Linked DNA regions of Homo sapiens: regions 2, 3 and 4 are each linked to region 1. Evidence: fine-mapped expression QTL. A gene starts in region 1. Each other region holds a variant in brackets. All regions are shown on one strand. Distances are between the middles of the regions.

Region 1 (7,886 bases):
TGAGGGGGCTGGATTAACAGGATGATCCTCCCTCTGGCACTAACATTCTGAAATCCACTCCCGTGCTTTCTCCTAGTTAACCTCCCTAACTTTTCCTGCAGTCCATGGTGTCATGGCTTATACTCCAGCTTTCTCCTCCATTTCCTTTCCCCCAAATTCCTTCTGCTTTTCTCCAAAAACTCTAGGGTTGGGGAATAGGGTATGGGTGGTGGTTAGTGTGAAGTTTTTTTTTTTTTTTTAAACACTTTTGAGTTAATTTTTAAGTGTCCCTAACTTATACTTTTGTTTTTAACAGAAATACTTTGCTCATCTGTTTTTATTGTTTAGTCCCTCATTGAAGTTTAGTTTTGTAATTTCCTTTGTTGTCATTCTCATTGTTCTTAAGCCAGAATGAAGGCAAGAACTATAATTAATTAGAATGCTCATTTTCTTTAACCTCTGTTATCCAAATTATTTCTGATATAATGCCATACATAAGGGTGCTAATGGTGTTTCTTGACATTGGTTATAGTTTGTTTTAAATTGGGACTGTATATTTCTGACTTGTTAAATAATGGAAGATTTGGGGCATTACTGAATGCACATAATCAATCCCTTAAAACATGCTGAAAATGGAAAATAGTAAAATTTAAAGCTTTTTATACTACATGATAATAGCATTTTTTTGTACCAAAAATGTAGAGCCAAATTTTCCACTCTGAGATTTATTTTTTCTGTCATGAACCTTTCAAAGTAAGATCTCTGAAAATGACTAATAGCCCAGTGTTGATTAAATTGTATAATTACCAGAAGAGAAAAGGGTGGCAGTGCTCAGAGAATCAAAGGAAATTAATATCTGCTGTGTGACTTTGGGTAAGTCACTTAACATTCCCGAGCTTAATTTTTCTGTAAAATGAGGACCATACTACTACCTGCATTAGCTACCTCACAGCTCTTTTGTGAGGAGTACACAAAAATGCCTACCTTCGCATAATAATGACATGAGGCCTTACAAAGTATAACTGAAACATAATAAAATTGAATGATGCATATGAAAGCACATTTACACATTATTCTTTCAAAATTACCAAGTTATACCATAGAACTGTAAGGAATTACTTTATTAGACAAAGCATTAGTGTTACTCACTTCTCCCAAGAGATTGTGCCTATTGCTCCACCTGCTTGACCAAGCTATGTTGCCTGTGCCATCTTTCCTATCATCTTATACTGTTATTCATACATCCTTGGATTGGCTTCTTTCTTAACTTTTTATGGTACATGCCTTATCTCAACCAGAACATATATTGCTTCTTTACATTCCTCTTGGAGCATAGTCAGTGTGAATGTAAAAAGGAAGCGGGATTGTTAGAGTGTATGACTAGAAAGAACGTGGAGAAAGTTTGAAGAGAGTGTTCTAAACACTGGGAAGTTATTGGATGTTTTTGAGCAGGTGACTAACCTAAGCTCACCTGTGCTTTGGGAAAACACATCCGGTGTTCATGAGAATAGACTGGAGGAAGGAATAACTGGAGGCTAGGAAGTGAATTTCAAGGAGATGGATGGCATGGTCCAGAAGAAAAACATGGAGAATTTAGGAAAGATGGCAAAAGCAAAATAGACAGGTTAGGCTGTTATTTGGTTGTGGATGGTGAAGAAATCCAAAGTACTTACTAGTATTTTGTCTTTGTGACCAGCTAGGAAAAACAGACGGTTAAGGATTTATCTTCTTAAAGAGGAATGGAGTGTGCAAAAGTGGGAGAGGAATGTGATCTTGATAGTACTAGTTAGTACTGACTGGGTCTTTCTTTGTACTTTTAATTTTATTTAATACACAACACCAATTGTAGCCATTTTGATTTTCTTTCTTCTCCAGCGGACTTTGAATTTAAGATTTTTCTTTGTGATCCTGTGCAAGCCTAGGTTGTTTAAGAAAAATACACGAATAGTTTCTCAGACACTTCCTCGTAGCAAAGCACTTATTAATGCTTGTGACTACAAATAATCAGCATTTCTTAGGTTTCTTCCTGTGTACTGTATCTCAACAACTTTTTGAAATATATTTTAGGAAAAAATTTCTAGTTCTCTAAAGAGGTGAATCTCAATGGGTGGTTAAATTTCACAAGGGTTGAAAGATCTTGTGGTATAAAAGCTCTGCTTTTAAGGTCGTGCTACATCAAAGACAGTTCAACGATAGCATGGAAGAAAGTGATATATAAATAACAAGTAACTCATACTTAAAAAGGCACTACTACGTTTTGTTTTTTATATCTGTAATGAGATAGGTAACTGGTTAGTGGCTAGTGAATTAAAAGCGAATCTTAGAGAAAGGGGAAAAGAACGCGTTTCCCACAAAACGCGTATATTCAGTTCTCATTCTATGATATCTGCCATTTGATGTGGTTCTGTTCCCCTCCTCCCACTTTCAAATTATTTGTCGCGCGCCAGTGGTCCCAGCTACTCGGGAGGCTGACACAGGAGGATCTCTTGAGTCCAGGATGTCAAGTCTGTAGTGAGCTATGATCCCGACACTGCATTCTACCCTTGGCAACAGAGCGAGACCCTGTCTCAAAACAAAACAAAACAGAAACAAAATAAAAAAACAATGTTTTCAAGAAGCAGAGACCAAGCCCCAGGCGGAGTCGAACTCTAGCAGGACAAGAACGCGGTCGGTCCCTTTCCCCCACCTGATCCACAGGTGCAGGGGTGGTTGCCTAGGTGACGCTCAGCGCATACTCCAGGCCAGGCGGCTCCGGACACCGCGATGCGGCCGGAGTTCAACAGCAGGTGACGGCGGGAAAGCAGAGCGGCCACATAGATGTCCCTGTACTCGGTAACTCTTGCCCTCCCTTGTTCTTCTCGAAGGTCCTTTTTTTTCTCGTGCACGGCTGACGAGACAGGCGCAAGCTAACTTCCCCCGCACTCCTCCGTCGGCCTCTAGAGGGCCAGGGCTGCGGCGCCTACAAAGCCTCGGGATCACAGCTGGGCCTCCTTAGCTACCGGCCGGGCGACAGCGCGCCTGCGCACCGGCGGGGTCACGCGCGCGGCGCGGGGGTGGGCCTGCGCCGGAGGGGCTGTCATTTGCAGCGCTGGTCGCAGCCCTCAGCTGCGCCGGGCGGTTCCGGCTCCTCCCTCTCCTTGTGCCTCAGCGCCACCATGGTGCTGGAGTCGGTGGTCGCGGACTTGCTGAACCGCTTCCTGGGGGACTATGTGGAGAACCTGAACAAGTCCCAGCTGAAGCTGGGCATCTGGGGCGGTAAGCGAGAGGGCGCGGCCAGTGGGCTGCGGGCGCTGAGGGCCCAGCCGAGGGCTGCTCCGTCCGGGATTCTGCCCGGGCCCTGCTCCCTGCGCCGCCTGAGACTCCCCATCCCGGTGCGGCAGGTGCTAGATGCGGGAGCCTCTGCCGCCCGCGGATTCTCGGGGTCCCAGTCCCGACTCCGGCTGGGGAGATGCGGCGGGATCCCGCCCGCGCTGCCAAAGTTCCCACCTTTCTCGTCCCCCGAGGCCAAGCCCTGGCCCTGCTGTCCCCGCCCTGCCCGTTTCTGTGGTCCTCTCGCTGCACTCAGGGTGGCCCCTTTGGCCCTACAGCATAAAAACAGAGCCCTTTCTGTTTCGGTATCGCGTGGAGTGAGCATGGTTGTCTGGTCATATACGCTCGAAGTGGCACTAAGAAAAAAGGAGGAAGTTGCATCTCGCAGTTATCTTCACTATCATTTTACAGGGAGCAAGAACTGGGTTCCTTCTCTTTAGGATTACCGGGTTTGGAGAGGAACGGGCAGGAGATCTTTAAGATAGGCGTGTGCTTAGGGATTCTTACTCTTAATGCTTTCAGCTCCTGTGAAAATGATTTCTTCCTTTAATATTTACTTTTCCGTCAATACGAAGAGGATTTTGAATTTTGTTTTGGAGCAATAGAGAGAAATTCAAGCCTCGACCAGCATCGTCATTAATTAGGTGTCTGCTTGGTTGCATGCTCAGGAATTTATGCCAACGTTTTTATCCTGGAGATTAAGTGTATAAAAGTATTCAGGAAATAGTGTACTTAAACATACACTCTTCAACGAGCTTAATCGTTTGCATGAATTACGTGTTAAGCTTTGAGGACTTTGGGACTTTCTCACTCCACAAAAGGTTTGGGAACTTTGTCAGCTTTGGAGGAAAATTCAAAAAACGACTCAAATGTATGGATCTGCTTTTAATTCAAGCAACAACAAATAGCTATAGACTTCCCCTGTCCACTAGGGTAACCACTAGCCACTGTAGCTGTGGAGCACTTGATATGAGGTTAGTGCTAATTGAGACTTGCTGTATGAATTAAAACATCGTTTTGAATAAGCATTACTCCTAATGAAGTAGGAGAAAAAAATAATACCTCAATAATTTTTATGTTGCTTATGTGTTGAAATAATATTTGAATATATTGGGTTAAATTAAATATAATATTAAAGTGTATTTCCCGTGTTTTTTAGTTTTACTTTTTTTCTTTTTAAACTTGGCTTCTAAAATTTATAATTACGTATATGGAACATATATTGGGCAATGCTGTTTATACCCTGAATTACGGAAGAGCCTGGTTGTTGTTGTTGTTGTTTTTTTTTTTTGGCTTGTCTTTTTGAGACAAGGACTTGCTCTGTTGCCAAGGCTGGAGTGCAGTGGCAAGATCGTAGCTCATTGCAGCCTCCAACTCCTGGGCTGAAGTGATCCTCCTGCCTCAGCCTCCCAAAGTGCTAGGATTACAGGTGTGAGCTATAGTGCCTGGCAAGAGCCTGTTTTTAATAGGTGGCTGATCATTTGATTGGTTCACTGTGGTTTGCCCAACAATACAATAGTCCCTTGGTATCTATGGGGGATTGGCTTCAGTACCCCTGACCATACCAAAATTGGAGGTTGCTCAAGTCCCTTAAATAAAATGGCCTAGTATTTGTATGTACCCTATGCATATCCTTCTGTATACTTTTGGTCATCTCTGGATTGCTTATAATACCCAATAAGTAAGTGCTATGTAAATAGTTGTTCTGTTGTTTTTTAATTTGCATTTTTTTATTGCTGAATTGATACTTTTTATTTTTTCCCCCCGAAATATTTTTGGTCTGCAGTTAGTTCAGTCCGTGAATATGGAGGGCCTACTGTACATTCTTTGTTTACATCCCCCCACCACACTCAATACAATGTAAAGGAAAGGTAAGTAAAGAAAGACACATTTAAGGAATTAAATGACCAGCATCTTCTGCAGAAATCAAGTATTTCTTCAGAATACTGGCAATATTCTTTCCAGTGATTCCTTATAGTTTGTAAACATTTGAAACTTGAAAACGCACCGGAGTAGCAAATCTGAAATCTGAATAGGCCTAGTGAATGGTGTGCTGTGTTGGACAAGCCACTTACCTTATTGGGCCTTAGTTTCTTCATCTTAATTTAAACTTTATAGAAAAAATATTTTTAAATTCTGAAAAGTTTAAATCATACTGGATGATATAATACTTTCATGTAATTACTCATATTTCAATGTTATAATATTATGCCATATTTACTTTAGACATTTTCTTTTTAAAAAGATAAAACGTATGGATATAGTCAGAGGTTCCATTGCCATCAAATGTTACTCTCTTTTATCTTTAAAATTGGAGGTTGGACTAGGTAACATCGAAGGTGATGCCAATATTCTGTTCTTCTGATAATGGTTTTACCATGACATTGAGGAGTATACTGCTTGAAGATTTTGAAGTTTTTCACAACTGAAATTAAAAATGTCGTAATTTTATGTTATTTCCCCTTTTGTCTTTTTTTGGTGAAATCTAGAAAAGGAGACTTTCTTTCATCTCATTTTTAAATTTTTAGAATAAGGTATTCTGCCAGTGGCCAACATTAACTTTATAATAGGCCTGAGCAAATAAACCCATTTCTTTCACATATTGTGTCTAGTGAACATCCAATCAGGGATTCTCCTAGCTTTATCAGCTCACAACTCTGCCTCTGTAAAGCTTTGCTGCCTTTTATTTTTGTGGTTGCTATAAAGCTAGAAGTCACGAGCTTTTATCATTATTGCACAGTCTGTTGTTGATAACCCTAATTTCTCAATAAAATTGGAAGGCAAGATATCTGAGTTGATTTTTCCTGTTCTTTCAAAATATTGCTAAAGAAATTTGTCTTAAACTTTTTTGGGTAAACAAATGGGAATATTAATTTAATAAAATAGGTGACATTTTATGATAACCATGATGTTGACAAGTTTTACAAAAAATTGAAAATTCTATATAATCTTCTTTGACAACTATTTGCTTTAGCAGATAAGGTTTACAGTTCACAGAGTTTTTTTTTTGTTGTTGTTGTTGAATTTTCAAGTCTTGAGAAAGGGAAGAATTCATCTTGTAAATATTTCACTGTAGGGACCAGCCCCACAGGGTCGGTGGGTCTCTCCCTGTGTGCGGCGACGAGAGAGTGTAGAAATAAAGACACAAGACAAAGAGATAAAAGAAAAGACAGCTGGGCCCGGGGGACCGCTACCACCAATGCGCGGAGACCGGTAGTGGCCCCGAATGTCTGGCTGCGCTGTTATTTATTGGATACAAAGCAAAAGGGGCAGGGTAAAGAGTGTGGGTCATCTCCAATGATAGGTAAGGTCACGTGGGTCACGTGTCCACAGGACAGGGGGCCCTTCCCTGCCTGGCAGCCGAGGCAGAGAGAGAGAGGAGACAGAGAGAAAGATAGCTTATGCCGTTATTTCTGCATATCAGAGACTTTTACTACTTTCACTAATTGACTACTGCTATCTAGAAGGCAGAGCCAGGTGTACAGGATGGAACATGAAGGCGGACTAGGAGCGTGACCACTGAAGCACAGCATCACAGGGAGACGGTTAGGCCTCCGGATAACTGCGGGCAAGCCTGACTGATGTCAGGCCCTCCACAAGAGGTGGAGGAGCAGAGTCTTATCTAAACTCCCCCGGGGAAAGGGAGCCTCCCTTCCCTGGTCTGCTAAGTCGCGGGTGTTTTTCCTTGACACTTTTCGCTACCGCTAGACCACCTTCCGCTCGGCAACGGGCGTCTTCCTAGATGCTGGCGTTACCGCTAGACCAAGGAGCCCTTCTGCTGGCCCTGTCCGGGCATAACAGAAGGCTCGCACTCTTGTCTTCTGGTCACACCTCACTATGTCCCCTCAGCTCCTATCTCTGTATGGCCTGGTTTTTCCTAGGTTATGATTGTACAGCGAGGATTATTATAATATTGGGATAAAGAGTAATTACTGCAAACTAATGATTAATGATATTCATATATCTCTAAGATCTATATGGTATAACTATTCTTGTTTTATATTTTATTATACTGGAACAGCTCGTGTCCTTGGTCTCTTGCCTTGGCGCCTGGGTGGCTTGCCGCCCACCTCACATACCTGATCTTACTATTCTTTGGAATCAATTGATAAACTACTTTGATACATCTTAACTGGAATGTCTAACTAGCCTAAAGCAGTGATTTTCAGTGGGAGGTGACTTTGTACCCAGGGTATATTTGACAGTGTCTGAGACTTTTTGGTTGCCACACTGAGGGAAGAGGTGTGCTATTGGCATGTAGCAGATAGACCCTGGAGTACTGCTAAACATTCTACAATGCAGAGGACAACTTCCTGCAGCGAATTGTCCAGCTCAAAATGTTAGTTGAGAAACCCTAGTCTAAGAAGAAGACTGAGATTGTCTTCTGCATTTGTAAGGGACCTACTGGGTGCTGAAAAAATTGTAAGGTTTTAAAAAGGACACGGAAGAAGTAGATTACTCTTAACGAAATCTGTAATTCGAGAGAGAAATTGATATCTTAAGTGACTGAAAGGTATCATGTCAATAAAAATGCGTAATCTTTGCTTGGATGATCTTTGGAAGTAGTTTTAAGATCGAAATATTGTGTTAACATGATT
Region 2 (7,886 bases), 210 kb after region 1:
AATGACTAGTGTTCTTTGAAAGGTTTTTTTATTTTTGTTTTTTTGGGGTTTTTTTTTTTTTTGAGACCGAGTCTTGCTCTGTCGCCCAGGCTGGAATGCAGTGGTGCGATCTTGGCTCACTGCAATCTCTGCCTCTCGGGTTCAAGCTGTTCTACTGCCTCAGCCTCCTGAGTAGCTGGGATTACAGGTGTGTGCCACCACGCCTGGGTAATTTTTTTTTTTTTTGTATTTTTAGTAGAGATGAGTTTCACCATGTTGGTCAGTCTAGTCTCGAACTCCTGACCTTGTGATCCGCATGCCTCAGCCTCCCAAAGTGCTGGGATTACAGGCATGAGCCACCACGGCCCGCCAAAAGGCTTTAACCCATGAACAAATGTTGGATCCTGACATTTTGTTTAAGAGTGATTTGTTCAATAATTGAACTGAGTTAACATTCTTGGTAAACCAGGTAATTGAATGAAGAAAGGTCACTAAAGGGAGAAATGACATGTTTTCTATTTTCTTTTCATGAAAACACTGTTTTTCCCCCTAATAAAGCATATTTTACTTTGGTGCTTATTTTTCCTCCTTGCAGTCTAATAAAAAAATCTGGACAATCAAACCTTAAAATAGCTACACTCTGCCCTCTGTAATGTAGCATTCATAAAAATTTGGAAGTATTTACATCCTCTTTCAAGATGAGCTTATATGACACAATTATTATTTGCTGATACATGAAAATACTGCACTTTAAGTTTCTCAAGACTCTGAAATATGTAAAATTCAATATTTTTATATTCCCAGAAATTGTTTCTTACAGGTTGAAAGTCTTTTAAGGGCATCACAAATTAACATTTACTCCTAATGCACGCCTAGAATGTATTTTAAATACTTACTAAGAAGAATGAAAATTCTTTGGTTGTTTTATATATAAATAAGGCATATATAATGACACTGTGTTCTGTGAGGGAGCAGGCCCTGTGAGAATCAATTCAGGACAGTATTTTTTTTTGTCCTTTCTCCATCCTTGATCAGAGATAAACTATTAAAACTTTAAAAAATACTCAAAAATATGTAAGTTTTTTGGTTGAACCTTTAGATTTGCTCATAATGTTTAACATAACAACATTTATTTCAAATCACTGAATTCATGGAGATGTGGACACGCTTGGTTTGCTCTATTTTTGTTTATGTGTGATAGTGGTTCTGTCATCATCATTCATGTTTTTTAAGGCCTGGTCATAAAACTTTAAATTTTACTAGTGTTACTTAATGTATATTCTAAAAAGAGAATGCAGTAACTAATGCCCTAAATGTTTGATCTCTGTTTGTCATTACTTTTTCAAAATTATTTTTTTCTGTAAAGTATAATATATAAAACTTCTTGCTTAAATTGAATTTCTATATTAGTGGTTAATTGCAGTTTATTAAAGGGATCATTATCAGTAATTTCATAGCAACTGTTCTAGTGTTTTGTGTTTTTAAAACAGAATTAGGAATTTGAGATATCTGATTATATTTTTCATATGAATCACAGCTGTTGACAATGTCCCATATATTTAAGAAATTATATCATACTGATACTATTTGTAACATTTTGATTTGATTTAATCTCCAGGGACAGAAATAATTCATTGGTAAAGTGTAATAATGCGTTTTTTAAAAATGCTTTGAGAGGTAATTACTTGCATATGAGAGAAATAAAACATTTGGCACATTGTTTACAGGTGTGAAAACTTTGTGGGTTTGTGTTATTCAAGTAACATTTGCTTTACTTTTTGTCTTTCCCTTTTCCTCTTCCAATCCCAAAATAGTGAGAAGTTATATTGATAGTTATGGAGGACTTTACAAGATACTAGTCAGAAAAGCTTTTTCTCAGGGGTACTGAGCCCCTTTATCACACTAGAGATCTGTGGCAGAGACCTCCAATACTGGGGGATTACAGAGAATGCGGTTGACCTAGGGGCCCAGCTGCACTTTGAAATCCATTGCTGTATTTGCATTGAGCCCATGCCTTCCGTGGTTTCTCTCAGCGACTGGCTGAGTATGAAGTTATACTAAGACATACTTAGTCTGGAAATTCTAGGAGACACAGAACTCCTCTGACAGCCGACTTTGGCTTGAAGACTCTTCAGTGGCCTTGCAGAACCTTTCTTAGACTGCATGGCAGTCTGGGATGTTCTACCATACCGCTGTCTTTCTCTTCTCCTCCCTCTTCCACATGGGGCTCAGACTACCAGTTTGGAAGGCTCACCCAGTGCTGGATTATCTGGTAGGAAGAATAAGTTCATGCTGAGGGCTGTAGCAAAGCAGGGGCATTAAAAAAGGAAAAAAAAAAAAAAGGAAGAAGACTGTACCCAAGCTTCGTAAGAAAAATGCCATCCAGGGTGGACTTACTTCCATGTGTTTTATGATTTAGTATTGTTTTTATTTTGAATTATGCATGAAGGAGGACACTATCATCTTTTTGGTGCTTTGAGTTTCTAAGTATGTTGATCTGGTGCTGCCTGGATATCTGTTTTTAACGAAGTTCTGTGTGTGTTTCTAATGTACAGCCAGGACTAAAAATTAATGCTCTGGACTTAAAATGATCAAATTCTTAAAGGGCTCTACAGATCTCAATGTTAGTTAATATTAAGTTGCAATTATTGCCAGAGCTGGAAGAATCATCTTTTTATTGGGGAGAAAAACCAAAGATTCTTAGAGGATAGAAGATTGCTCATAACAGGGTCATTTGTCCTCTGGGGACAAGCCCTTGTGGTTGAGAATCACTGCCAGAATGACCATGAGTACTGATGAAAGTGGGTTCTGTGCCATGTGTGTCAGCTCTAAGAAGAAATCGAGACTCACTGGAGCGGAGGGAGCACATTTCTCTTGGTAACTGTGCCGCTAGTGGGAAAATTGAGGCTTATTCTTGAATTCATGCTGGAAAGTATCTTCAGTTATAAGTGTGTATCATTCAAACAGTCAACTGTGGGTCTCTTTGAGGTGAAAAAGTCTTCAGAAAGAGTTT[T/C]CTGTTTTGTTTTTACAAACCGCAGACACATAGTTCCTTATTCAAAATTCAAAAATTCAGAAGGCTCTGAAAACCAAAAGATTTTGCAAAACTTTGAAACAAAGACATTTGGCAGCAAAATCTGAACTGAATTGACATGAGGCTATTCATGGTCTTTTATTCTATTTGGTGTAGATAATTTGGCTGTAGCAAAAGTACTTTATTTGGTTGTGGGGTGCTGCTGCAGATTTCCCTGGAGGCATACAAGCTCTATGTGGTATATGAACCATATTGTCTTTCTTTTTTCTTTTCTTTTTTTTTTTTTTAGAGACGATGTCTCACTCTGTCATCCAGGCTGGAGTGGTGCGATCTCAGCTCGCTGCAACTTTTGCCTCCCAGGTTCAAGCGATTCTTCTGCCTCAGCCTCCCGAGTAGCTGGGACTATAGGCGTGCACCACCACGCCTGGCTAATTTTTATATTTTTAGTAGAGACAGGGTTTCACCGCATCGGCCAGGCTGGTCTTGAACTCCTGACCTGGTGATCTGCCCACCTTGGCCTCCCAAAATGCTGGGACTACAGGCATGAGCCACTGCACCCAGCCCATATTGCCTTTCTTAAATGTGAAGTCCTCTATTCTGAAACATCTAGCCTCAGGGTTTTAGGTAAGAGATTGTAGAGCTGTATACCTACAAAATTCTCAATGTATTAAATTTGCTTCTCAAATTTTAGAAAAATCATAGACTATAGGAGAAACTCTAAGAAACAACAGAATTTTCTTCCCTCTCAGACCATACTAATGTTTCATTTTACAGTTAGTGCTGGCAAATTTTTTTTGATAAAGAGTTCAGAGAAATTGGTGTCAACATATATGTTGCCACATGATGTGTATCAGAAGGATGACACTTGAGAACAAATATGGAAACATAAGCACATCAAAATTATTTTTATCCCTTTTGTACATTACATATCTGCTGGATGAAAAGATTTTAAAAATTGACTTCTAGTGGGGAAAAAATTAGAATAGTAATGAAATATATATACCAACATGGTCCTCTATCCACTAAGATTATAACAACACTACAAAGAAGATTTAATTCTTTAGCATTATTTTAAACTTGAAGAAAGATCAAGCAACTTCCCCAGAGATTGACTACAATGCCTAAAGTGGTTTAAATGCCTTGATAAATGATTTTCACCAAGAGTAGATTTCAGTTCTTGGTATTTGGGTTTTGTTTGTTTTTGTAGAAAACATTTATCTTATGGTACCAGTTTTTCTCTTCACCCACTTTTCTCTTTTGCCATCATTTTAAGTCTTCCTTCTCTATGCATCATTTTAACTTTTCTTCTTATGGCACCTCTTTAAATATTAAGTTATCTTTGTTAAGTAGATATTATACTATTGCTTGGCAAACTACAACCTACAGGCCAAATCATCTGTTCTTACAAAGTTTTATTGGAACAACCACACCCATTTATTTGCATTGGTTATGGCTGGTTTTGCACTACAGTGGCAGAGTTGGGTAATTGTGACAAAGACAATACGGCCAGCAAAGCCTGAACAATTTACTATCAGACCCTTTACAGAAAAGTTCATTGATCCCTATATTGTGTCATATAATTGATCTTACAGATGGGACAAACAGATATCAGATGACTTACCCAAGGTCCTGTGGTGAGATAGGAACTGAAATTAGGATCCAACATCACCAACATCCCTCTCTATCTCTACTTCTTCCTAAAAACAAGGACATTGGTGTTGAATGAATGCAGCCAGTGTTGGCCTCTTGGATTTCTTTTAGAACCTTATACCCTTAACCCCAAATTTTATGTTCTCTCCCTATCTATGTTTTACACCTAACTGTGATATGGCATTTCCCATAGTAACACCCAAACCTAAGCCAGCCCTTAGTTAAAACATTTTTTTCCTGGAGAATTCTTACATATGGTCTAATATTACTATGACAGTTGACTAGCATATGTAGCTTTTGAGGTATACAAATGAGGAAATAAAAACTTTGGATATGGGACATAAAACTTGCCTCTATTTCCACAGCACAATCAAAACTAAAAATCAAATGCATGGGGTTCTACCATAAACCCTTATAGAGTTCTACTGATATCAGGAGTAGAAAAACCATGCCCAAGATACATACTTTATTATAACTGGCTAGGGACTTGCCAAAGTAGAAATGATATTTTTGAGCATGGCACATGACATTATAGAGTAGTAATGTAACAAATGAGCAGGTGTTCAAAGATTGCAATTTGAATGGAAACTATAAAATTTTAGCTTCACCAGAGGATGCTGCTGCAAATTAGTTAAGCAAGCACTTATTGATGGTTTAAATTAAGCAGCCACTCTGGAACAGGGCACATTTCCTTTCCCTGTGGAGTACTGTTAGAGAGGCTTAACCTACTTTGACACTTCTGATCAAATCTTCCCACTTCATTCAATTCACAGTGATTCATGCTCTCAAAAATAGTAAAAACGAAAAAAAAAAATAGGGCATGAACTAGAAGATTAACAGCGTTCTTAACTTTTTCAATAAAGATTTCTTGGACTATGCAGTCAGTTGAATAATCTATCACTGTTACTGAAGTAGGTAGTAGATTTTTTTTTTTCTTTACGCCAAGATAAGGGAATCATACTCCTGAAGAATTCTGGAATAGTTGTAAGGTCTATGGGACATTTGAATATATCTGGAATTATTGGCAGCAGGAAACAAGTGCTTTCTTGTGAAAAAGATTCCCATGGTTAAAACTGAGAGACCTGGAAAGCACTCCTTTCGAGTTGGCCTCAAATGAACAGAACAGAAATCTTGCATGACTATTATTACAATCCAGATGGTAAATGGACACCATTGAAAACACTGTTTAGTAAAGGCCATAAAGACTGAGTACCCATGACTTAGACTGGTGAATAAGAATATATTTCCCACACGACCTAAAATTAATGCTCAGTTGCCACCGAATTATAGTGCAGCTCTTTCAGAAGCACTAATGATACTTATTTTGTGTGGAATGGATTAATTTTAATCATTTTTTTTGGCAAAAATAATTCACTTGGGGGCCTTTGTTTTAGTTGTACTTACTCATAGAATAGTTAATGGTTGGGAGATCCTTATATTCAGCATAGATCTATTCTTGTGGCTTCCATCCATTGAGCCCAAATCCTTAGGGCTATCGGAATAAGAATGACTCTTTGTGTATATAGAAGCCTAGCTATGGGAGCACTACCTAGCAGAATTGAAGGCTGGCCTCATGTCCTACCATTTATCCAGCAAGCAAGTAAGTTTCATTTTCAAGTTCTCATCTTATTCTACCTAAACCATCCCTAATGAGACAAAACTTCAAGTCATCCCATAATCCTGGTGGCACTCCTTAAACAAACAAGTTCATCCATGTTCCTTTTAGGATATGGTGCACTGATCTGCAGGAATGTTCCAGGAATCAACTAAGGCAGATTAATGCTTTGACAATTCCATATTTTCTACTGCTTTTCTAACAGTAGTAAGTGTCCCAACCTATTAAAGCAATTACTTATGTAAAGTAACATTTCCCCATTATTGTAATTTATTAATCTTGTAACTTTTACTTATTTAAGAATATGGTTGAGTTATTCTTTTCACCACTTTTGCTAACAGTAAGGGTAAATTTGTATGGTACTGTAGATTTAAAAATCCCTTTACTTCTCTTGGCCTCAGTTTCTTCATTTGAAAGTAAGACCTTTGGACCAGATCTGCCTTTTTCACAAAAGGAGTTGAAGACTGGCCTCATGTCCTAAGGATCCCTTTAGATTTTACAAATATTGATAAAATGACCAGATGTAGAATTGTTATTTTGAAAAGGTGAGATGTATTGCTTGCAGAAGTTTTTTCCTCTTTCTCATAATATTCCTAAAGATGTTAAATGTGTATTCTTAATCATTAGTGAGTTTCTTTTTTAAAACCACAGAACATTTAACAGCACCACCACCAACAAAATCAAAAGAGAAAGTGTGGGAGATTGTTACTAGTCCTTGCATGGAGAAAAGTCTAGATGTGGAGACTGTAGGTAACTGAGTCCCAAAAGAGAGCCCCTGAAAGAACTGTGGGCAGGAATGGCTGAGTCGGGAGCTAGGTCATTGCTGTGAAAATGGGATCCTGCTCTTCCTTCTCAGATGCACACCCTCAGCAGCACCTTTTAGTTGTCTAAGGACCAGTGCTGTGTGAGGTGGTCATGGATCACACCATGCGCAACCTGGGCTCTCCATAAGCCATCACCCACTCAGAAGACTTCTCTGCTGGTCAGCCCTGTCATCTGAAATGTGTTGGAATCATTGCTTTGGATAATGGAATGCAAATGTTAACTCTTCAGATTAATTTGCATGGAGTAAATTACAAAATCAGAGAAAGGTCATTTTAACTAACATACTAAAGAGCTTTACAGTTTATAAATCCATACTTAATCTTTTTAAGTCTTAATAGCAGCCCTATATGGCAGGTAGTGATTTTCCATTTTGTAGATGAAGAAACATGTTTGTAGAAGTGATTTACCCAAGTTCATATAGGTAGGAAGTGCAGTCTCAGGAACTGGTTGAAATCACGTTCCTTTTCTATCGCACTATGCCACCACTTTGTAAGCACACCAACCTGCAGAAATGGACCACTTTCAAGCTCAAGGGAGCAAGATAGATAAAATTATAACTCATATGGATGCAGCTCTAAATGATTTTGATTCTAGTTATGCATGCATGCAGATGCATTCTTTATTCTTTTGAACCCCTTCTTGTGTGAGGAAATGAGAAGACATTCTGTAGTTCCTTTTGGCTTGGACTTCTCAGAGTTATCATCCTTCTTTCATAGGAATGTTTCATATTCCCTGGGCTTTTATATCACCTGGTCTTTTCTCGTATTAAGGCTAGGACATATATTT
Region 3 (7,886 bases), 200 kb after region 1:
TACACTAATGAGAGGACTTGGTAGTTTTTGTCGTGGATGTCAAGTGTGGGCATGGATAATTGAAATATTTAGGCTATTTCATTCTTTGCCCATCTTGCTGTGATCAGTTAGTTGGGTAAAAATATTTATTGATTATTTAGACTGTACTGGATATACAAAAGAAGCCTTCTGTCCTTAAGGGACCGAGTAAAACAAAACATGGAAATATTAAAGAGTATTAGAGTATAAAAGTATATCTTTTTAGCCCTTTGTAATATGGCCAAATTCTAAATAATTTATTTGGGGATCTTTTGATCCTCATGTTCCTTTTTCTCCTAAGTACTACTTTGTATTCTTTAATATGCAGCTTTGAGAGTTACTGAATCATATATTATATTTCCATGAGATGTACTATTCTACTTATCCTCTAATCTTCATATATATATACACACACACATATATATACACATACATATATACACACGTACATATATGTACACATACAGATATACATACACACAAACACATATATACACACATACATATACACACATATATATACACATACAAATATACACATATATACACATACATATATATACACACATACAAATATACCCATATGTACACATACATATATACACATACATATATACACACACATATACACACATATATACGCAAACATACACATATTTACACATACATATATACATACATTATATGTATGTATATATAGTCATTTAATACTCATTTTGGTTCACATACTTATGATCATGCAACGTTTAAAACAGCATTTCTTGCTTTTTAGTTTTAGTTATATTTTTCCATGTTCTTAGAAATGCCTCATTAACATTTTTAATTCTTGTATTGCCATCTATTGAGGTGACATTACATTGTGTTTTTATCTCGTCTTAATTCATGACATTAAATTATTCTACTAACAGTAATAATGCTGTAATAAACATCATTATAGATTTTGCTTTTTTATATCTTGTTTGCTTTTTCATATTTCCTTAGAATTTACTTGAAAAAATTGAATTACTGGGTAAAGGGCTTTTGCAAAGTATTGTTAAATTCCTCGAGTTGCATTTTTGGAAAGGGGACGTGAATATTTTATCAACTAATTTGGTCTCCCTGCTGCCATTAGTGACTGAATATCTTAATCTGAATCTCAGAGTGTAGTGGGTTTTTAGTAGTGCTGAAGACAAGTTTTCTAAAGTGTATTATGGTGATAAATTATATTTTAAAAACTGTCAATGGCTTGAAGCACAATAGCCTAATAACTAACGAAAATACATACAAGATAGAAAGTGGGTAGTATTTCTTGTACTTGCATTTCAGATCTAAATATTTTAACATATTTAAATTTCAAGCTGCAGATAAATGCATTACATTATTAAATTCATTTCCCATTTTCTCTTTGAAGAAATTAAGGCAAAAGTGTTAAAAGATTTTAACTAATTCGCACAAGTGAATTGTGAAACAAGTAGCTATTGCTGTGAAATCTGCACTCCTCTCTGAGACTCATTCTGAAGATGAGATCCCAGTTCTTTGTGGATTCCTCTTCCTTATTCATGGCTTTTTGCAATTGTCAAGGAATGACTAGGTACCAAGCAACTTTAAAAAATGTATATTTAAGCATTGAAATAATATCAAATGTGATTTCTCTGCTTGTGGTTATATTGATTATATTATCCTTTTAATAATATTGGCATTATATTCTTGGTCGTAAAATGTCAAGGTCTTATTTATTCAGTATATTTATGTTCTGTATTTTCATATATATTATCTATTTTCAGCCATGCATTATATATAATGTCAGTAATAGTATTTCATTAGCATTCATTATAAAAAAACTCGTTTTTAATATTTGACTAATTCAAGTCACAGTACTTTTGAGATAGCTGAAAAGGAAAATAAATGTGTTTTAATGTGCTACTACTTATACTTGAATTATTTTATGCTCATATTTGTTTTTAGAAATAAATTGTGCCAGCTATTTTGAAATCTTAGAAATTGTTCATATTAATATTGTCATATTTTCTTTTCTATAAGAAATATAATTTGATATATAAATATACTTCCCCACGCATGTTTAACGTATAAGATCAAATGTTCAAAGCATTAAACATTAATTATCTTGGAATTTTATTATGTGTATAATATCTACTAATACCTCTATGTAAACCAGTGGTTCTTAATCTTTGAGATCACAGACCCCCCTCTGTGATTAAAAAAAAACTGACAAAAAATATTAACTGCCCTGAAAAAAGTTTTAGAACTACGTTTTCAAAATTTTCTATTTTATGTTAGGTGGTTCAGAGACCCACCGCAAAGTGCTACCAGTGACCCCTATTTCAAATCCCCTGTAATGTTAATGTAGTTATTTTATATTAGCATATGTTTCTTAATTAAAGTGTGTGATAATTGCTGGTAGATATTTTAATATTTCTAAGTTACTACAGAACAAAATGTATTTTACCAGAAGACCACTTGGTAAGCATTTATTACATGTTTTTCTTTTAAGGCAACAGTGGAAGTTAACTTACAAACATGCTGTGAATATTTTTCTAGCTTCATGTACCAATATGTAGAATTGTGCTTTTATTTCTAATTAATTTTTTCCTAACACTATTATTATAATTAGCTAATATGCAGTATTGTAAATACTACTTAAATGCATAACTTCCCAAATCTAGAGCCTGGTTTCCTTTTCAGAATCATATCAAAAAGTTGGAAGGAGAGACTTACCGATACCACTGTGCTATTCCTGGAAGCAAGAAGACAATCCTTATGGTTACAAATAGGTACTGACTTGAAGTGACATTTTTCCAAATAGTACTTAGTTGCATAGGTCACAAGAATTTTGAAGGCTAAAATGGCAGAAGAGTTGGAAAATTGTACTTAAAATTCTCCAAAGTGAATGGCAAAATGTTCATTTTCATAGAATCACAATACAGATCTAAATAGGTCCTTTGAGATTTTCTTTTCCGACCTCCTCATCTGAAAGATGCTGAAACTGAGACTCAGTGTGGCTTAGGGACTTATCCAAGTTACACAACCACTGAGAGAATGTAGACTAGGCTTTATACCTGTAATAGTGATACCCTTTTTCATGAATTACAAGTCCAGTTATGGAGGATTAATTCATGAATCACTTTTG[T/C]TACTAAGTTTTATTTTGAGTGATTAGCATACCCCTTTTAAAGGGTGGCATTACTTCTATATGTTTATCTCAGCTTTTCCTAAGCATTTGGTTGTGGTAGATTTTTCCAAATAGAAGAACTTATAGTAAACTACCAAGCTTATTTTCCTGGGATCTATCCTAGATAATAAAATTATCCCAAAATGACAATTATATATTAATAATTTTCAGAACTTTCTTAGTGTTGAGCTTTATAAGAGTAAGGCAAAGTTCTTACAGTGGCAAAATCTGCATTAGATTCCTCATGACTGCATTTAAATTTGTTTGAATGGGAATAAAGAAAAGCTGAATGACAGGATAAGAGAGGTTAACCAGTCATGTCAGAATCCTCATGTAAGAGAGGATTCTCCAGTCATGTGATTTGCTCATTAGTTAAGAGTTAAAAATATTCACAAAACAATCTAAAAAGCAGATTTTATGACTTTGACAAGTAATCACTTATTTTTTATGTCCATAATTTTATATTGTCTTCAATAGATTAAGCCAAAAACAATGTTTTTTTGTCTTAGATATTGTACTTAGCTGTTGCAATGTGTTAATTCATTTTAAAATTGTATCACTTTTATATAATTCAGTACTGGGCAATGAGAATCAATTTGGGGTTTTTTTGGTAATACTTATTGGTAATACTTAGTACCTATTTGATTTAAGCCATTCTGTGGGAGTATTACTGTATACATTATATATCTGGTTTTTCTTCAAGTACATTGAAAAATCATCATCATTTGAAATCTAGTCACTGATGGAGTTGTTTAGGAGGTAATTAGTAAAATATACCTGACCAGTAAATACTATGACTTAGTTTCCTTGCTAACCTTACTTAGTAGACTCCTTTTCTTTTCTCCTTTCCTTTCCTTTTCCCTTTCCTTTCCTTTTCCTTTTCCTTTACTTTTTCTCTTCTCTTCTCACTCTTTTCTTTTCTTTTTCCTTTTCTTTCTTTTTTTTGAGACAGGGTCTCACTCCGTCACCCAGGCTGGAGTCCAGTGATGCGATCTCAGCTCACTGCAACCTCTGCCTCCTGGGTTCAAGTGATTCTCGTGCCTCAGCCTCCCCAGTAGCTGGGATTGCAGGCATGCACCACTATGCCCAGCTAATTTTTGTATTTTTATTAGAGACGGGGTTTTGTTATGTTGTCCAGGCTAGTCTTGAACTCCTGGCCTCAAGTGATCCGTCCACCTTGGCCTCCCAAAGTGCCAGGATTACAGGCATGAGTCACAGCACCTGGCCTTAGTAGACTCTTTCTAACAAGAATGTATTTGATTGAGGTAGTTATCATTATGGTAATCATTTAGACCTTTAATGATTACATTAAAATAGTAGCATTTCTTCCAAATTCAGTATTCTTAAAAATAACATTTTCTTTTTTAAAGAAATGGGGTCTCTCACTGTGTTGGCCAGGCTGGACTCAAACTCCTGGACTCAAGTGATCCTCCAGCCTCAGCCTGTTAAGTAGCCTGGACTATAGGCATACATGCACCACCACATCCAAAATAATTTTTATTGCTAAAGTTATGGCTATTCATTGTAGATAACATAGAACAGGAGTCAACAAACTTTCTTTAAAGGGACAGATAGTAAAATTTAGACTTTAAGGGCCATACTGTGTTTCTCAACCTTTTGTTTTTGCCCTTATAGTAAGAAAACAGCTATGAACAGTATGTACAAGAATGACATAGCTGTGTTCCAGTAAAATTTTATATATTAAAACAGGTCTTGGGCTGGATTTGGCTTGAAGGGCACAGTTTGGCCACCCCAGTATTGAAAATAAGGAGATGAAAATAGGCTGGGTGTGGTGGCTTAAGCCTGTAATCCCAGCACTTTTGAGAGGCCGAGGCGGGCGGATCACTTGAGGTTGGGAGTTCGAGACCAGCCTGGCCAACATGGTGAAACCTCATCTCTACGAAAAATGCAAAAAATTAGCTGGACTTTGTGGCGCATGCCTGTAATCCCAGCTATTCGGGAGGCTGAAGCCAGAGAATCACTTAAACCTGGGAGGCGAAGGTTGCAGTGAGCTGAGATTGTGCCACTGCACTCCAGCTTGGGCAACAGAGCAAGACTGTCTCTCAAAAAAAAAAAAAAAAAAAAAAAAAAGAAAGAAAATAACTAACCATACATGCGTTCTAGTTTGCCTAGGACATAGTAGATTTGCTTGCACGTTTTGTCCCTATGTAATTATCAATAGCTATTCCTTTCATTCTTAAAAACATCCTGGTTTGAATAACAGATTATATGATCACCCCTAAAAATATCCTTTACCAGCAATGTCAGCACCCAAAGATAACCCCATTAGCTGGCACATTTTACGAAAACTATGTACAAAAAAATGCATTATTACATTTTAGTCTTGTCAATTTTTCATGTAACAATATACTGTCATCATCTTCCCAAAGCATTAAATATTCTTTGACAACATGATTTTTAATGACTACATAATTTTGTATTTGCAGATATGCTATAATTTATTAAAATACTCCCTCACTATTGGACATTTTTTCCCTAGTATCTTATTGTTATTTATTTGTAACCAAATCTTTTTCTATTATTTTATTAGAATAAAATTTTAAAAGGGGGATTGCTAATTTAAAAGTTGTGAAGATTTTTGAGGTCCTTTCTGTATATCGCCAAGTCATTTTTCAGAAAGGTTGTATCAGTTTTTTTACATACCACTCAACAATATATGAAAGTGTTCTTTCTCCTGTGTTTTGCTGAGACTAGGTTTTATCACTTAAACTTTTATTTTTTGCTAGCTTGATGGGTAGAAAATAATTTTTTGTTTTAATTAGCATTTCTTTGATTACTGTTGAGCCTGTACCTTTTAATATATCATCATCTATTTATATTTGCTACTTTGTGAATTACTTGTTCATATTCTTTGCTCATTTTTCATTGGTATGTTAGTCTTTTTCTTACTGAATTTAAAGAGCATTTTGCAAATTAATGATATTAGCCCTTTTTGTCAAATGTATTATTGACATGTTAGTGATTGCTAATTGAGTTTCTCAGTATATAGCATTTTTTTGTTTTGAAATTCACCCAAAACTTAGTCCCTGAATTTTTTTTTCTTATGAGTTTTTAAAATCAAAACACAAGTTCTCAAGACCTAAGTTTCTTAGGCTATAGCTTTACTAGTTGGTCCTAACTCTGCTATAGTTTATTTTAGTAATCTTTATTGAGAAATTCATTATTGAGCAGACTTTAAAAAAAAAAACCATCAACATATGACAAATACAGGGACACAGAGATGAAGTTACATCTCTGTTCCTTCCCTATTTTAATGGGCAGGGGGCTACAAATTATCAATGATATCACCGTGTGATAGGTGCTAAGAAGAGCGATGGACAGAGTCTCTGAGGACATAGGGAAAACTCTTGGTACAGTAAGATGGGGACCACAGTGTCATGGGAAAAGTGTCAGGGAGGCTTTTATAGATGAGGGAGTGCTTGAGCTGAGTCTTGAGTATGTAGCTCTTGCATAGGTAAACTAGAGGCAAGTGGAGGCATACAATAGTATGGCACTTTGACCAGTAAGATCAGTGTGGAATGGCTGGATGGTAGGGTGTTAGTGTTGGGAGATCAGTCATAGGTAGCAGCTCATAAGATTCTAAGGGTTTAGGTTTTATCATTAATGTGATGGAGAATCACTGGTTTTTGCTTAAGGTATAGTCTGCTATTTTATTTTTTTGAAACAGGTTCTCATTTTCATTGCCCAGTCTGGAGTGCAGTGGCTCGATCGTGATTCACTGCATTCTCGACTTCTCTGGGCTCAGGTGATTGTCCCACCTTGGCCTCTTGCATACTTGGTACCACAGGCATTCACCAGCTAATTTTTTGTATTTTTAGAAGAGACAGAGTCTCACTATGTTGCCCAGGCTGGTCTTCAACTCTGGGCTCAAGCAGTCCTCCCACCTTGGCCTCCCAAAGTGCTGGGATTACAGGCATGAGCCATCATAACTGGCTGGCAGTTATTTTTTTATTTGATATCACTTGTAGCTTCTCACACAGAATAGTACACACGTGAGTAATCTCTCTTTTTTTCTACCCCACAGAAGGTTTGTAAACAAGTAATATGATGAGGCTTGTAGTTTTAAAAGATCCTTGGCGGTTTGGATGTTATACTGGAAGAGAATCAGTCCAGAGGCAAGGAGACCAGTTAGAGACTGTATACATTTTGTATTGCTGCACAACAAATTACCACAGAATCCACTTCCAAGCTCATTTGCTGTTGTTGGCAGAATTCTAAGATCCCTGTTTCTTTGACCTCTGTCAGCCAGCGAGCTGCTCTTAGCTCCTAGAAGCTACCCTTATTCCAACCCAACAAGGGTGCTTTGAATCTCTGACTTCTTGGTCTCTTACGCAGATTTATAGTCCATGAACTTAGGTCAGGCCCACCTACATAAACTATTTTTGCTCAGAGTCACCTGTGCCTTATAATAACCTAATCTTGGAAGTAAAATCCATTATATTCAAAGTCCAGGGCACTATACAGAGATATATACCAGGGTTGGGGAATCTTGGAGACTTGTCTTAGAATTCTGTCTACCATAGAGACTGTGGCAGCTATCATGGTAGGAAGTGGGGAGGGCCTAAAGAATGAGGATTTGACTTATGAGACAAGGCTTGGTGACTGAGTGGATGTAGAGGAGAAAGGAATACATGATAGGGAGGGAGGGAGATAGATAGACAGATAGATAGATAGATAGATA
Region 4 (7,886 bases), 120 kb after region 1:
TTGCTTTTAAGCACTTAGTCATAAATTCTTTCCCAGAGCCGATATCTAGAATGGTGTTTCCTAGGTTTTCTTGTAAAATTCTTATAGTTTGAGGTCTTACACTTAAATATTTAATCCATCTTGAGTTAATTTTTGTATATGGTGAAAGGTAGGGGTCCTTTCACCATAGAATAAAACGTTGTTTCATTCTTTTGCATATGGCTAGCCAGCTATCTCAGCACCATTTACTGAATAGGGAATCCTTTCCCCATTGCCTATTTTTTGTTGACTTTGTCAAAGAACAGGTGGCTGTAGGTGTACAGCTTTATTTCTGGGTTCTCAATTCTGTTCCCTTGGTCTGTTTGTCTGCTTTTGTACCAGTACCATGCTGTTTGGGTTACTGTAGCTTTATAGTATAGTATAAAGTCAGGTAATGTGATGCCTCAGCTTTGTTCTTTTTGCTTGGGATTGCTTTGGTTATTTGGGTTCTTTTTTGGTTCCATATGAATTTCAGAATAGTTTTTTCTAGTTCTGTGAAAAATGACACTGGTCATTTGATAGGAATAACATTGAATCTATAGATTGCTTTGAGAAGTATAGCCATTTTAACAATATTGATTCTTGTAATCCATGAGCATGGAATGTTTTTCCATTTGTCTGTGTCATCTGTGATTTCTTTCAGCAGTGTTTCCTAGTTCTCTTTGTAAAGATCCTTCACCTCCTTGGTTAGATGTATTTCTAGGTACTTTGTTTTTTTGATGGCTATCGTAAACAGGATTGTGTTCTTCATTTGGCTCTCTAGCTTGGATGTTATTGGTGTATAGAAATGCTACTGATTTTTGTACATTGATTTTGTATCCTGAAACTTTACCAAAGTTGTATGTCAGTTCCAGGAGCCTTTTGGTGGAGTCCTTAGGGTTTCCCATGTGCAGAATCTCATGATTCCTTAAAAGCATGCATTTCTACTTAAACCATCATGTTTACTTTTCTAGAGAGCAATTAACTTGGAGGTGGGTGCCGGGGAGGTTAGGTTGCTTTTGTAATATTAATGGATGTACACCAAGAATATTGCTTCTGAGAATGATCTTATCCTCATTGGGAAAGATTTTTCTGTTTTTAGTTGAAATTGAGATGAAATACATCTTATTATAAATAAATTTTGACTCTTACTAATGATTACAGGATTGTAGACAATTAACTGTCTTTCCTCATGCTGAGTACATAAAAAAAAAAAAAAAAGCCTTATCAGAAATAAGCCGGCAGAAGCTTAGTTTCTAAGACTAAACTTTATTGCTGTGGCCTAGCAGTACAGAATTGAACCCAATTTTGGAGAAGTACGGTACTGCCCTTCTCCCTTTCATTTAAATTTGAATTTAAAATAACCAACATTCTTAATAAAAAGGAGATTTTTAAAAGAACTGTTGCAAAAATTTATCATGAGAATAAAATAATTCTCAATTATTTTATATTTTATAAAATATTTTATAAAATGAAAAATATTTTATGAAATGTAAGAAAGAGCTCTTTCTTCCTACAGTAACTATTGTTAATAGCTCAGAGTGTATGTTTCTAGACTTCACTCTCTACATACACAAAATCATAAATAACATCTTTTATATTACTTTTTTATTTAGTTTTTAAAGTAAATGCTTTTTAAAGTTTTTTCTTTTAAAAATAAATGCCTTTTTTCCCCTAAATATCTGTCTCTTCCAACAGAACTTCCTCAACAATTTCCAAACTGCTAAAGAAGCTTTGAGTACAGCCACAGTCCAGGCTGCAGAAAGAGCTGCTTCCAGCATGAAAGACTTGGCTCAAAAGAGTTTCCGCCTTTTGATGGATATTAATTTGAAAGCACCAGTTATTATTATTCCTCAGTCTTCAGTATCACCTAATGCTGTTATAGCAGATCTGGGTTTAATCAGAGTTGAAAACAAGTTTAGCTTGGTTCCTATGGAACATTATTCTCTTCCTCCAGTCATTGATAAAATGAACATCGAACTCACTCAGTTGAAGCTGTCAAGGTATAAATATGTAATCTAATTGTGTATTGCTTACTAGAAATAGGATTTTCATACAATTTTTACCTAAGGTAAAATGTTGTAGTAATTTGTGGTTTTCATTCCTTATTTCTTCTAATTATGAAACCTTGACCATTGGCTTCTTGGTCAGTGGTTAAACAGTCATGTATGTGCCTCATGGAGTCTGTATTTTCCCTTACTACATATGTAATATGATTTTTTTCATTCTATAAAAATTAGCTATTATAAAATTATAGTTTACTCAATACTTAGTTTAAATTTTTTATTTTTCTCACTTTGCACGTAGCTATTTCCTTTTTTATTTTTGGTGGGAAAAAACTTCGTAATATATAAAATTTAAGATTTATTTCTCATTTCCAAACCTTGTCACATTTGGGAATTTTCAGTGAGTTATCGAAAGGATTAGTGAATCGAAATGGGACAGTGTTGGCTCTATTGAGTGACAAGAGCGTTTATTTGGTTAGGCAAATGGTTGTTGGCAGGCAAGCTGGAATGACTATTACCGTATGTTCGTTTAACTTTTAGATTAGTTGAGTTTCCCCCTTGAGTCTGGAGAAGTACCAATAACATATTAAGGGCTAAGTATAAGATTACTTTCTTCATCTTCCAGTTTTAGGAGGATGTAACATTTGTTTGCATGACAGTAAACTATTCGCTGTATCAAACAGCCTTTGTGAAAAATAATAAATAATGCAGTTGTCATAGTGTATGAAAATTATGTTTTTGAAATCAGTGTTATGTAGGTTTGGTTTTGGATAGCTCTGCATATAAACTTATGTGTTGTGATTTAGATTGATCTTAAAAATGTGAAAAGAAGTGTATTCTAAAAGACTTCTGTTAGCAGCTTTTAGCCTTTATGAAATGCTGTGTGGAAACTGTTACACAATAGGATAGTCCTCATTTTAAAATGTAAATTTGAAGTAAAAAATAAATTCTTGTTTTTCTTTCAGAACTATTTTGCAGGCTAGCTTGCCACAAAATGACATTGAAATTTTAAAACCAGTCAACATGCTTTTGTCCATACAGCGAAACTTAGCAGCAGCATGGTATGTGCAAATTCCAGGGATGGAGATAAAAGGAAAACTAAAACCTATGCAGGTAAGTAGCTAGTATATAATATATGAAAATTTCTTGATAGGCTTTTCTCGTTGATCATAGTGCAGTTCTAGTGGATATCAGAATGTAGGAGTTGCTACGTTATTGATAAAGCTAAACCAGTTTTCTCTTAGTGAGCATTTGTCTGTTGTATGTGTACTTTTGCCCAAGTAATAAATTGAGTAAACTAGATTTTGTTTCCTATTTAAAAACAACAAAAATAAATAAATAAAAAATATGCAAATGAAATCATCCTTGTTTCCCTCACTTTTCTTTGTTTTCATTTTAGTTAGATATTTGGTAAAACCAGCAAGGAGTCTGAGATAAAATCTGTTGGAGTGTACTAAAAATATTATTCTTAATTTTGGAAAATTCTGTTAAAGTTTTAATGCAGTTAAATTGTAAGACAATGCAAAGTGATATTCAGACACTACATTCAAAGCACCTTAGTATTTTTAAATGTGTAGAGGGCCCGTTTTAATTAGAAAGGTGATATCATTTTGAATAGGCAAATGTGTATATTTGATAAGCATATAAATACACCATTATTTTTAATAGTGTAGTTTGTAGAGGCCTTGTTTTAATTAGAAAGGTGTTACCATTTTAA[T/C]AGGCAAATGTGTATATTTGATAAGTATACAACTTTTTTTTTTTTTTTTGAGACGGAGTCTTGCTCTGTGGCCTAGGCTGGAGTGCAGTGGCATGATCTAGGCTCACTGTGACCTCCACTAGCTGGGTTCAAGCGATTCTCCTGCCTCAGCCTCCTGAGTAGCAGTGATTACAGGCACCCGCCATCCACTTGGCTAATTTTTGTATTTTTAGTAGAAACAGGGTTTCACCAGGTTGGCCAGGCTGGCCTCAAACTCCTGACCTTAGGTGATCCACCCTCCTCGGCCTCCCAAAATGCTGGGACTACAGGCGTGAGCCACCGTGCTCCGGCCACAGCGTTATTTTTAATAATGTAGCTAGAAGGTTGCATATCAGCTCAGAGGAGGAGGTGAGACTGGTTGAAGGTAGTCGTGGAAGTATAGGAATCCTGTGATTCTTGTGTGCCTATGTGTGAAACTGTTGAAACCAAACAGCCGAGGATGGGATAGGGGTGAGAGAGACTAAACAAAACCAAACAAAAATTTAGTGGTTTAATGGGTTTTCATACCTGTGATTATTTCAGAGTTGGTTCTAACATGAAATAGGAAGGATCAAAGGAGCAGAGTTTTACTAGGGAAGAAGTTAAAATTGAAGCTTGTTGTAGAAATGAAGGGTTTCTGTTCATATACTAGTGGATATATTACATGAAGAACAATTATTAAATTTTGTTTGTTTGGGCATTCATAGGGTAGCCTTTATTCCAGAGTATGGGTACCTTCTTTTAATTTCTGTCTTTCTGCCAAGAGGTTAGATCCCAGGACTAATATTTGGCTCTCCCTTTCAAAGATTAGATCCCAGGACTAATATCTGACAATCCCTTTCAAAGATTTTGTGGTTATAGGTTTGTTGAAAGCATAAGTAAAACCTGAATGTCTGTTGGTAGCAGAACATGGATAAAATTTTGGTATCTTCATATAATGGATGTTGTAAAGCAGATAAAGTGAATAAAATAGAACTATATCAAACAAAATTGATATATCTTGAACATAAAAATGAAAAAAGTGAGTTGCAAAATGATAGTACAGTTCTATCAGTTTTATATTATTTCAGATTTTCAACAGGCAATATAATACTATTATATATTGTTTATAAGAGATGCAGTGTGATAACTTTAAGAAAAGTATTCATGGAAATAATCTCTAAATTAGGCTGGTGTCTTTCTCTAAGGGCGAAAGGAGAAGGGAATAGGGTCTCAGAGAAGTACACACGGGGCTTCTGCTATATCTGTAATGGGAAACGAGATCTGAAGGAAATATTGCAGCTTGTTAAGATTTGACAAAGCCAGGTGGTAGATTCACAGGGGAAGATTATAGTATTCTCTGTCCTTTTCCTTTATGCTTTTTAAGGTATTTTAGAAGAAACAAGAAAAAAAAGTAACATCTGATACTTTAGCATCAAAGTATTATAATTACTTTAACCAAAAGCATCCTTATTAACTCAGGAATGCAGCAACAGTGGATGAGGCCACCACTGCCTAATTTGTCGCTGATCCAGGTCTCTCTAAACACCCCCCTTTGGTCATAGTCTGTATAGTTTTCCTGGGCCTGGGATGCAGCCAAGAAAGGGTATCAGGCAGGTGACACTGGCAAGTTGTTTCCCTGGTCTGGGCTGCAGCTAAAAAAGGGTATCAGGCAGGTGATACCTACAGGTTGTTTTGGGTGGATCATTTTGATGGTTTTTAAAGAACTGTGGGGCTGCCTTTCAAAATTGTCCTTCATACTTGTTCCCCCCCCACCCCACAGCAAAGTGAAAGAGGGGTGAACTTAGTTGCCCTTCAGAAAGCTGTGGTAATCTTGGTTGGTATGAGAAGTGGGTTGGGATATACAAGGAAATTCTAAGGTGTTAAAATTACACCTGTTATATGAGGCCTGGGGCTTAGGACAAGCCATAAATCCCTGGTCATTATCTTGTACTTAAATAGCTCTGTATTTTCATTTAAAGTGGGAACTAGGCAATTTCTCTGGTGGTAGGGACCTAATTTGGGGGACATAGGGTACTGTGGTATTCAGAGGAGATTTGCTATGCATGCGTGCTTGCATGCATGCTTGTGTGAATTTGTAAGTACTTGAAACAGGCCTTTGGAGCCACTGTGTCTTACATAAGGTAGAAGGATAAGGAGCTTCAAAGACAGTACTGGTTTAATGGATTTTAGCAGCCAGTAGCAGTTTCGTTTGTTTTAGTTTCTTGTTCTGCAGCCATCTGTGAGAAAGTTGGTATTATGCCTATTTTAGAGATTAAGAAACTTGATCACGCCTGTAATCCCAGCACTTTGGGAGGCCGAGGCGGTTGGATCACGAGGTCAGGAGATCGAGACCATCCTGGCTAACATGGTGAAACCACGTCTCTACTAAAAATACAAAAAATTAGCCGGGCGTGGTGGCGGGCGCCAGTAGTTCTAGCTACTCACGAGGTTGAGGCAGGAGAATGGCGTGAACCTGGGAGGCGGAGCTTGCAGTGAGCCAAGATTGTGCCACTGCACTCTAGCCTGGGCGACAGAGCGAGACTCCATCTCAAAAAAGAAAAGAAAAGAAAAGAAACTTGAGTTAAGGACGTTAAGAAACTTTGCAGCAAGACAGCTTGAAAGTGGTAGTTGATACAGATCTGCCTGACTCAAAGCCCTGGCTCTTTTTCTTTTTGCCACACATACCCTTTTATGAAGGTAAAAGATAAGATGCTACCTTCCTATTTTTTGTTCTTTAAACATTCTTTGTAGATACATTTGTTATTGTTCTAAATGGTATTATTCTTGATAAGTTAAACAAATGTTTTATGTATGTCCAGATGCATATATACTGAGATGAAGAGCTACGTAGCAGGAGAGCATCTTTTTACTATTTGGTAGAGACTAGAAACTGAACAACACTCGTCCTGTATTTAGTTTCAAGGAGAGTAAATAATATAGAAGAAGGAACTGGTACTGGTTGAGATGAGAGAGAGACAGAATGGAGATGGGAAGATAGGGAAATGGGACAGATAGGCACGGGTCCAGGAACAGGAAGACATAGTAACAGATAAGCCATAGAGAGTGTTGGAGTGCCAGAGGCAGGGGCCTGGATATGGGCGAAGGCAGAAGTGTGTGTGCACACAGTAAACAAGGTGAAATACTTCTGTTCTGGTATTTATAGTCCTAACTCTAACTCTCTTCTTTTTAAGTAGGTGAACAATTAATTTGAAAAACCACAAATCGAGATATAGATATGATAGTCTACATTTTTTTTATTACTTAGAGTTAACAAATTATTGGTGGTTTCTAGGTTGCTCTCAGTGAAGATGACTTGACAGTTTTAATGAAAATTTTGCTAGAAAATCTTGGAGAAGCTTCCTCACAACCAAGCCCTACACAGTCTGTGCAGGAGACTGTAAGAGTGAGAAAAGTTGATGTTTCAAGTGTACCTGACCATCTCAAAGGTATAAATTGATGATATTTACTTTATGGAGAAAAAATTGGTGTTAATGTCATATTTATATTTAGTATTTTTCTAGCTGTCCAGCACAATGTGGTATGAACTAATTCAGTATTGTACTACTTACTGTGGAAATTCGGCTGGGGCTGGGAGGTATGTCTGTTCTCTGCTACAGGGGGAAGGGTCACTTGTTGTTGGCATGGTGCTTGTTTACCCTTTACTTGTGAATGCTAAATTTGCTGAATTCACTAGGCACTGAAGTGGCGTATCTTGAGAGAAGAATCAAGCTAGATAGGCAGTGTAGTAAGGTCCCAAATTAATTAAGAGAGAAAAGGACCTTGGTATCACATGTCATACTCAGGTGATTGAACCATGAGAAAGGAAGGTATTCTTGTAACAGCTTTATTTATCTGGACTTATTGGAGCGTTATGTTTCAAATACATAAGATAATTTTTCAGATCATTAATTTGAACCTATTAAAAGCAGTGAACCTTTTGAATTCAGCCATTTTTAAATAATTTTTCTAAAATACAAGGTTTCTTTTTGATTTCTTAAACAGATTATATTACATATAATTTCACTCTTTTTTCATAATTTAAAGCCATTGATGTGAATATTATGTTTAATTAGACTGTAAATAGGTTAATATTTTCATGGCTAAAAAGAGATGAAGTACCCCTTGCCCATATAGTAAATGGTCCTGGCTGCTGTGCTTTTCTAATG

Which allele goes with the higher level. Alleles are on the strand shown, and positions count from the first base shown. SD is a standard deviation of normalised expression in the study named. Not every link is listed here.
For the expression in tibial nerve of the gene that starts at base 3,062 in region 1, allele T in region 3 goes with a higher level than allele C (small effect, 0.21 SD a copy in GTEx).

What was found. PIP is the estimated chance that this variant, and not a neighbour inherited with it, causes the effect. A credible set is the group of variants that fine-mapping cannot tell apart.
Region 2: its variant is the best candidate, but not a certain one, in a credible set for the expression of VPS13C in whole blood (TOPMed, PIP 0.81).
Region 3: its variant is the best candidate, but not a certain one, in a credible set for the expression of VPS13C in tibial nerve (GTEx, PIP 0.74).
Region 4: its variant is the best candidate, but not a certain one, in a credible set for the expression of VPS13C in whole blood (INTERVAL, PIP 0.74).

Annotation. Positions count from the first base shown.
Region 1 is chr15:62,055,623-62,063,508 of GRCh38, reverse strand. It overlaps VPS13C (vacuolar protein sorting 13 homolog C), which reads left to right and starts at 3,062. Exons shown (of 85, transcript NM_020821.3): 1 at 3,062-3,234. The coding sequence starts at 3,135. VPS13C-DT (VPS13C divergent transcript) reads right to left here and starts at 3,006. Exons shown (of 2, transcript NR_135690.1): 1 at 2,666-3,006; 2 at 1,075-2,541. RefSeq lists an enhancer at 2,751-2,800 and a silencer at 2,851-3,200.
Region 2 is chr15:61,846,218-61,854,103 of GRCh38, reverse strand. VPS13C (vacuolar protein sorting 13 homolog C) reads left to right here. Exons shown (of 85, transcript NM_020821.3): 85 at 1-1,715. LOC124903501 (a long non-coding RNA gene) reads right to left here. Exons shown (of 3, transcript XR_007064668.1): 2 at 4,632-4,707. Among named protein-coding and RNA genes, the nearest start is that of LINC02349, 120 kb to the right of the region's middle. The variant T/C (reference allele first, on the strand shown) is at 2,993.
Region 3 is chr15:61,858,343-61,866,228 of GRCh38, reverse strand. It overlaps VPS13C (vacuolar protein sorting 13 homolog C), which reads left to right. Exons shown (of 85, transcript NM_020821.3): 82 at 2,701-2,789. The region is part of intron 2 of LOC124903501 (a long non-coding RNA gene); the gene reads right to left. Among named protein-coding and RNA genes, the nearest start is that of LINC02349, 130 kb to the right of the region's middle. The variant T/C (reference allele first, on the strand shown) is at 3,146.
Region 4 is chr15:61,935,877-61,943,762 of GRCh38, reverse strand. It overlaps VPS13C (vacuolar protein sorting 13 homolog C), which reads left to right. Exons shown (of 85, transcript NM_020821.3): 46 at 1,696-2,000; 47 at 2,969-3,116; 48 at 7,013-7,166. Among named protein-coding and RNA genes, the nearest start is that of VPS13C, 120 kb to the left of the region's middle. The variant T/C (reference allele first, on the strand shown) is at 3,721.